Regions from separate parts of the Homo sapiens genome. Here all the other regions are linked to region 2. The links come from fine-mapping of genetic effects on gene expression. A gene starts in region 2. Each other region holds a variant in brackets. All regions are shown on one strand. Distances are between the middles of the regions. Region 1 overlaps CARMIL3 (capping protein regulator and myosin 1 linker 3). Region 2 holds the start of REC8 (REC8 meiotic recombination protein). Region 3 has its middle 9.5 kb from the start of RIPK3.

What was found. PIP is the estimated chance that this variant, and not a neighbour inherited with it, causes the effect.
Region 1: its variant is fine-mapped to the expression of REC8 in whole blood (TOPMed, PIP above 0.99).
Region 3: its variant is fine-mapped to the expression of REC8 in CD8 T cells (Kasela 2017, PIP 0.95).

The regions. Positions count from the first base shown.
Region 1 is chr14:24,057,283-24,059,782 of GRCh38, forward strand. It overlaps CARMIL3 (capping protein regulator and myosin 1 linker 3), which reads left to right. Exons shown (of 40, transcript NM_138360.4): 15 at 521-597; 16 at 678-782; 17 at 873-942; 18 at 1,398-1,479; 19 at 1,608-1,704; 20 at 1,853-1,907; 21 at 1,988-2,160; 22 at 2,382-2,450. Among named protein-coding and RNA genes, the nearest start is that of CARMIL3, 6.5 kb to the left of the region's middle. The variant G/A (reference allele first, on the strand shown) is at 1,181.
Region 2 is chr14:24,170,726-24,173,568 of GRCh38, forward strand. It overlaps REC8 (REC8 meiotic recombination protein), which reads left to right and starts at 1,355. Exons shown (of 19, transcript NM_001048205.2): 1 at 1,355-1,883; 2 at 1,988-2,056; 3 at 2,174-2,316; 4 at 2,401-2,473; 5 at 2,566-2,686. The coding sequence starts at 1,828. RefSeq lists enhancers at 767-1,267, 1,336-1,585 and a silencer at 1,116-1,165.
Region 3 is chr14:24,348,033-24,350,875 of GRCh38, forward strand. No RefSeq gene overlaps it. Among named protein-coding and RNA genes, the nearest start is that of RIPK3, 9.5 kb to the left of the region's middle. The variant T/C (reference allele first, on the strand shown) is at 1,619.

The DNA of each region.
Region 1 (2,500 bases), 110 kb before region 2:
TGGGGAAGACCACAGTGGGCCTCGGTCTCACCCCCTATCCCTGAGTACACAGGCGGGCAGAGCTGTCTAGATGACTTCAGGTTCAGCTGAAGTATAAAGCAATGTCCATAGTTCATACCTGTGTGGCACTTTATCCAGGTCACAAGCTTGTGCTTGCTGTGCTTAAAAGCCAGCCCTTGCTCCCTTCCCCAGCTGTGCACCCTGGCTCCACCAGGGGAATGGATGCTTTTCCTAACTTGAACAAGGCACCTTAGGAGTCAGTGGTGGCCCTGGCTTTACACATCCACTGCCTGTGAGCAGCTTCATGCCCCTGGAAGCCAGGCAGGGAGTAGACCCATGTTCCACAGGGGAGAAAACAGAGACTTCAAGAATCTGAGTGGGCATCTCCAGTGGAGCTCACACAGGCTGACCACAGAGAATGAAGAGCCAGGAACCTCGATGGGGAGGGAGGGGGAGTCCTTTCCTGCCACCCCCTACCCCCTTCCAGCTCCCCTGAGACCCACCATATCTCCCCCCACAGCTTCTCGGTGCCCTGCTCCACGGCTGCTGCTCCCACCTCACCTACCTCAACCTGGCTCGCAACAGCTGCTCCCACAGGTGGGAGAGGAGGGGGAAGGGAGGACAGGGCAAGACATGGCCAACCCCCTCCCTCGCTGACCCCAGGGGTCTCTCCACAGGAAGGGTCGAGAGGCCCCGCCGGCCTTCAAGCAGTTCTTCAGCAGCGCCTACACACTGAGCCACGTCAATCTGTCGGCCACAAAGCTGCCCCTGGAGGCCCTCAGGTCGGGTGGGTGCAGGGTTGGGGGCGCATCCAAGGGAACCACGGGGAGCGGGAAGAGGTAAAGGAGGGCCTGCTGACCTCCCTCCCACAGGGCGCTGCTTCAGGGCCTCTCCCTCAACAGTCACCTCAGTGACCTGCACCTGGATCTCAGCAGCTGCGAGGTGAGCCCTCAGTCCCCAACCCCTCTGCCCGCCTCCGATCCATGTGCATTTCTCAGACCTAAGTCAAACCCTGGCTCCATCTAGCCTCTGTGCTGACCCTCTGCGACCCCCTGACCTGGCCACACCACCACTTTCCCCTCTCAGTCTGGCCTCTTTTCCAGAGGCCATTCATTCTCAGTCTCTAGTATCTCTGCCCTTAAAGCTTTGGGGTGGGAGATACCAGACTTTTCCACCAGAG[G/A]GCAGGAGCAAGCTGTCTTAGGAATAGCAGCCTTCCTGGCCGAAGGGAGGGAAGCCAGCTCTAGGGAAGGATCTGGTGTGGGGAAAGAGTCTCCCTGATTTTACACCCAGATCCTGGCATGACTTTGAGTTCTGGTGTGACTACTATATCCTAAGCATTAAAGGTGCCCTACCCCCACCCCAACCCCTGCCTTCCCTACCTCACCTTGTCCCTGCAGCTCCGTTCAGCGGGAGCCCAAGCCTTGCAGGAGCAGCTGGGAGCTGTCACCTGTGTAGGCAGCCTGGATCTGTCAGACAATGGTGAGTAGTGGTTCCTCCCTTCCCTGGGGCCAGGGGAGAACAGGGGCCTGGAGCATGCAGAAGCAGCCCTGATGGGACACCAGTCAGCCTCAGGCCTCCAGGCCAGGCCTCTCCCATCTGCTCACCAGGGTTCGACTCGGACCTCCTGACACTGGTGCCTGCACTTGGCAAGAACAAGTCCCTCAAGCACCTGTTTTTGGGCAAGAACTTCAATGTCAAGGCCAAGTGAGGCCCCCTTTCCATGCCCACAGACCCTCATCCCATCATTCACCCATCCTCTTGGCTCACCGTATTACCTCTGGCCACCTCTCTCCTCCTCCAATAGCATGACCCCAGCCCTTCCCCTCCTACTCTGAGCCCCGCCTCCCTGCAGGACCCTGGAGGAGATCCTCCACAAGCTGGTGCAGCTGATCCAGGAAGAGGACTGTGTGAGTGCCTGGGCCTGGGAGGGGACCTGCAGTCGGAGGAGGCTGTGGGGACTGGGTCCAACCGCCCCTTGCCCACACAGTCCCTGCAGTCACTGTCGGTGGCAGACTCCCGGCTGAAGCTTCGCACCAGCATCCTCATCAATGCCCTGGGCAGCAACACCTGCCTGGCCAAGGTGGATCTGAGCGGCAATGGCATGGAGGACATCGGGGCCAAGATGCTGTCTAAGGCCCTGCAGATAAACTCCTCCCTCAGGTGGGGCCCACACCGGGACCCCCTGACCTGGAGCCCCAGCCCCTCCCCATATGTACATAATCTCCCTGCTTTCCTTGATGCTCTGGACCCCAGCTTCCAGAAGACCCCCAGCCCCAGAACCATCTCTGAGTCAGCCTTATTGCCCCAAGAGGTTTGTGTCCCTGGCCCCTAGTAGGGACCCAGGAGGAGAGGTGCCAAACTGGTGCTTACCCTCCCCCCAGAACTATCCTATGGGATCGGAACAATACATCTGCCCTGGGCTTCCTGGACATCGCAAGGGCCCTGGAGAGGTGAGTAGACCATGGTCCTGCCCTGATCCAAGTCCCCAGCCTCCCTGTGC
Region 2 (2,843 bases):
CCAGCCTGGCCAACATGGTGAAACCCCTGTCTCTACTAAAAAATACAAAATTTAGCCAGGTGTGGTGGTGGGCGCCTGTAATCCCAGCTACTCGGGAGCCTGAGGCAGGAGAATCCCCTGCACCGGGGAGGCGGAGGCTGCAATGAGCTGAGACTGCGCCACTGCACTCCAGCCTGGGTGACAGAGTGAAACTCCATCTCAAAAAAAAAAGAAACCAGCCTGGCCAACATAGTGAAATCCCGTCTCTTCTAAAAATGCAAAAATTAGTTGGGTGTGATGGAGGGCGCCTGTAATCCCAGCTACTCAGGAGGCCAAGACACGAGAATCGCTTGAACCTGAGGGGATGGGGGGCAGAGGATGCAGTGAGCCGAGATTGCCGAGATAGCGCCACTGCATTCCAGCCTGGGCAACAGTGAGAGCCTCCATCTCAAAAAAAAAAAAAAAAAATGGACTTCTTCCTCATTGACCTGTGGTGGCTCCAAGGCCATCAAAAAAAAAAAAAATGGACTTCTTCCTCATTGACCTGTGGTGGCTCCAAGGCCATCATCTCACAGCCTTTTTTTTTTTTTTTTTTTTTGAGACGGAGTCTTGCTCCCTTGCCCAGGTTGGAGTGGAGCTGCATGATCTCGGCTCACTGCAACCTCCGCCTCCCAGGTTCAAGCATTCTCCTGCCTCAGCCTCCTGAGTAGCTGGGATTACAGGCGCGTGCCACCACGCCCAGCTAACTTTTGCATTTTTAATAGAGACGGGGTTTCACCATATTGGTCAGGCTGGACTCGAACTCCTAACCTCATGATCCGCCCGCCTCGGCCTCCCAAAGTGCTAGGATTACAGGCGTGAGCCACTGCGCCCGGCCTCATCTCACATCTTTCTTCCTCTGCAGCACACGACACGCCCTAGTTGGAAACAAAGTCGGAGTTTGTGGATTGGGGGAAGGGCGGGGTCTAACCTCAGGTCAGGCGCCGTGCAAGGTACATCTTGGCACCCGGAAGAGGCCCAGTACAGTTGCCCCCGAGGTGACCCGACCTCCCCTACCAATTGAGGCGCCCTTGTTGCCAGGCTTGCGGCGGGGGAGCGGCGGGGGAGCGACGGGGATGCGCTCATTGGTCAAGGAAGGGGCGCCTGTTACTAGAGGCGAGAACCGGAGCCCATTGGTCGGAACACCTCACAATGGACCCCAGCGGCGCGCAAAATCCTTATGATTGGTTTGCTGGCTGCCTCGGGAGACCCTGTTGCCAGGATACTTGGCGTTCCCGACCCGACCCCCGTTCCCCATTGGCTGTCAGGGCAAAAGCCGCCATCTAATGAGGAGCGAGGTGCGGTGCCCCGAAGCGCTCGCTTCCCGCGGTGCGATCTAGTCCTGCAGTAGGCGGCCCGGGGCCACACCGCGGCCGCCCAAGCCAGTGCAAGGCCCAGGGGCCTGACATCGCTCCCAGCGCTCGAGGACCGAGGCCTGCTGTGGAGGACACCGTGCTCCCTCGGGACCTGCTCTGGATTCCGGCCCGGACGTCCCCTTGGAGCTCTGCATCTCCAACCTGGAACCCAACCCAGAAGTCTCAAGTTTGACGCATCACGTGGCGTGCGGATCCACTGAGGGTCCACAGAGAGGGGCGCCCATCTCCTGCGTCTCAGTTATCCTGGTAATTGTGTATCTGCCCATTGTTCGTTGCCTCATTAACTTGGCTTTCTAGGTGCACCCACCTTGCCACCAGAGAAGTCCAAATCCTGACTTCTCTCCAAGGTGTTGGGAATTCTGTGCCCTAAAGAATTCCGACTCAGATCCGAACGGGGATCTGGTGGAATCGAGGGTGAAAGACCAGAGGGACAATGTTCTACTATCCCAACGTGCTTCAGCGCCACACCGGCTGCTTTGCCACCATCTGGTAAGGGCGGGGCCCGTTGGCGCGCGATGGCGGACGCTGCCCGGGATCCCAGCCTGACAGCTCCCCCTCCATCCCCATTCTCCCACCTTCCCCACCCACTTCAGGCTGGCGGCGACTCGCGGCAGCCGGTTGGTGAAGCGCGAATACCTGAGGGTGAATGTGGTGAAAACCTGGTAAGGCCCAGAAAAGGGAAGGAGGGCCTGGTGCGGGGGGTGAGTTAGGGGATGGGGTGGCCAAGACTGTGGGCCCACTCCTGGACGCAGCGGTAATCAGGGCGCATTGTTCCCCAGCGAGGAAATCCTCAATTACGTGCTGGTACGAGTGCAACCCCCGCAGCCCGGCCTGCCGCGGCCCCGCTTCTCCCTCTATCTCTCAGCCCAACTTCAGATCGGTGTGATCCGCGTCTATTCTCAACAATGCCAGTACCTCGTGGGTAAGGCTGGGAACCCTCAAAGGTGGGGCGGGCTGAGCAGCTGTCTGCTAAGCTGGCTGTCTACCTCGTCCTCCCTGCCCACAGAGGACATCCAGCACATCTTGGAGCGCCTCCACCGTGCCCAGCTGCAGATCCGAATAGATATGGAGACTGAGCTGTGAGTGTGCCCTGGGCCTTTGATGGAACACCTGCTAGCTTGGCCTCAGCCTGGCTCAGCCTCAGTCCTTCACGGCCTACATTCTCTCCCAGACCCAGCCTGCTGCTTCCTAACCACCTGGCCATGATGGAGACCCTAGAAGATGCTCCAGATCCCTTTTTTGGGATGATGTCTGTGGATCCCAGACTTCCTAGTCCTTTCGATATCCCTCAGGTAGGGCTCATTCCCCAAGACTCGTGAATTGGCAATGCAGAAGGGGAGTGCTGTCCCTGTGTCACTCTGACATTGGGGTTGGGGAAGGAAGCTTACCACAGCTCTCTCCCACAGGAGATGGTGCAGGGGGACTGCCAAGGTGGACCCATCCAGGCGA
Region 3 (2,843 bases), 180 kb after region 2:
CAACGTGTTGAAACCTGGTATCTACTGAAAACACAAAAATTAGCCAGGTGTAGTGGTACACACCTGTAATCCCAGCTACTTGGGAGGCTGAGGCAGGAGAATCGCTTGAACCTGGGAGGTGGAAGCTGCAGTGAGCTGAGATCACACCACTACACTCCAGCCTGGGCAATAGAGTGAGACTCTCTCTCAAAAAAAAAAAAAAATTGTGAAATAGTTTTTCAGAGTAGTTGTAGTATTTTATATTCTCACCAGAAATGTATGAGAGCTCTAGTTCTTTCATATCTTTGCCATCATTTGCTATGTTCAAGTCCTGTTACTATTAGCTATTTGGATAGGTAGCTCATTGTGGTTTTAATTTGCATTTCCACAATGACCAATAATATAAGCATGTTTTCATGTGCTTACTTGCCATCCATATATCTTTTCTTTTTTTTTTAATTGAGACAGAATCTCACTCTGTTGCCCAGGCTAGAGTGCGGTGGCGCCATCTCTGCTCACTGCAACCTCTGCCATCCAGGTTCAAGTGAGTCTCATGCCCCAGCCTCCTAAGTACCTGGGACTACGGGCGTATGCCACCATGCCTGGCTGATTTTTTTGTATTTTTAGTAGAGGCAGGGGTTTGCCATGTTGCCCAGGCTGGTCTCGAACTCCTCACCTCAGGTGATCTGCCCGCCTCAGTCTCCCAAATGGCTGGGATTACAAGCGTGAGCCACTGCGCCCTACCACCATCCATACGTCTTCTTAGGTGAAGTGTCTGTTCAAATTTTTGGCTCATATTTTAATGGATTGTTTGTTTTATTATTACCGAGTTTTGAAAGTTCTTTATATATTCTGGATACAAGTTCTTTTTCAGATGTATCATTTAAAAATACTTTCTCCCTGCCTATGTCTAGTCTTTTCATTTTCTTAACAGTTTCTTTCAAAGAGCAAAAGTTTTACTTTTGACAAAATCCAACTTGTCAAGTTTTTCTTTTATAGATGATAAAAAATCAAGTTTTTCTTTTGGTGTAGTCTATAAGAAATTTTTGCTTCATCCAAGGTTACAGTGATTTTCTCTTATGCTTCTTTCTAAGTTTTAGAGTTTGGGTTTTATATTTCTACCTGTTATGATTAAAAAAATAGATCTATTCATTTTTAAAGGTTCAGATATTCCTGCTTATGGGTTGTGTGTGTGTGTGTGTGTGTGTGTGTGTACTTCTTGGATTTACTTTAATTTTTAAGAAAGTTCATTTTGAAAGTGTAAGACTGACTCACCTTTGATAAGGGAACTACCAACAGGGAATTTGTGTAACTTAGACCAGGTTTTGGATGGAAGAAAGTGCCCTCCACAAACAGCTGTGGTGTGGAGGTAAAGAGGTGCCCCAAATGAGCAGTAAGGGTACATAAATGACCACTGTTCTCATTTGAATACATGCCTTCTCAAGTTCTTCTGTGCCAGGAACTCTGGCTTAAAAGGTTTTGCTTTGTTTTAATATCAGAAGCTGTGGAATGGTCTTGAGCTACATTGCAACATGATTAGATCTGTGACTTAGGAGGCTCAAGCCAGTGGCTACATGGTGCATGAAATGAGATGGGGAGAACTGGAGGCAGGGAAAACTGCAGGCCACAGTTAGAGCAA[T/C]TCAAGTGAGAGGTGATGAGGACCTGAACCAAGTTAATGCCTGCAGGGATCGAGAGGAAGAAACTCAGTCTAGAAATAACTCTGAGGTATTAGTAGAAGAACCTGGGGATGAGAGAGAAGGAATATTCAAAGTTTCTATTCTGGAAAGTTGAGAGAATAGTAATGCCATGACACTGAGGTATGGAACATAGAAGAGATACATTATGTGGGAATGGGCTATATTTGGATGTGGACATGTTTGTGTGAGAGCCACGTGCTGCAGCCTCAAGGGATCCCTAGCAGGCAGGAGAAGACAGGAGACCGGAGCAGGGAAGTGGTGAGAGTTATGCTGAAATGAACGACACCAACCGAGAGAGTCTATGGAGGAAGAAGGGAAGAAGGCAGAGGACAGAAAACACTACATCTCCAAAGTCAGGCCAGCAGAAGAGAAACCAGTGAGAGAAACTGAGGTCAGAGAGGCCGGAGCAGAACCAGGATAGCCAAGGGAGGAGAGACTTATCAGACTCAGCTGCTACTGAGAAGGCGTCTAAGTTTGGGTTTCCCAAAAAGAAGAGCCTGAGCTTGGATTTAACAAAGGTAGTGTTTTGGGGAGGGGATCCCAAGAAGCAGCAGTGAGGGAACAGAGTGTGAACTAGGAAGGGAAGAAAGCCAATATGAGGATGTTTTGTTGAGATTGTTATTGTAGGCAGTGGAGGCTCCTTTCCAGTAGAGGCTCCAAATTTAAAGAATGCCTCCCAGAATTGTCCACATGAAGGATGGGAGGCTGGAACATTCATCTGCCAGTGCCTGCACTCATTGGTTGAGGATTGCATCTGGAGGCACTAACTCCCTTGCACTTCTTGGCTGTGTTTGCATTGGAGCTGGAAAGGAGAGGAGTAGTGAGCAAGCTCCCATTGTGTGGGAGAAGGACCTTGTGATGGTTACATTTTATGGGTCTGCTTGGAGGGTGTTTTTGGATGAGATTCAACATCTTAAAAAGTGAATTTTAGGCCGGGCACAGTGGCTCATGCCTGTAATCCCAGAACTTTGGGAGGCTGAGGCAGGCAGATCATGAGGTCAGGAGTTCAAGACCAGCCTGGCCAACATGGTGAAACTCCATCTCTACTAAAAATACAAAAATTAGCCAGGCGTGGGGGCTGGCGCCTGTAATTCCAGCTACTTGGGAGGCTGAGGCAGGAGAATTGCTTCAACCCGGGAGGTGGAGGTTGTAGTGAACTGAGATTGC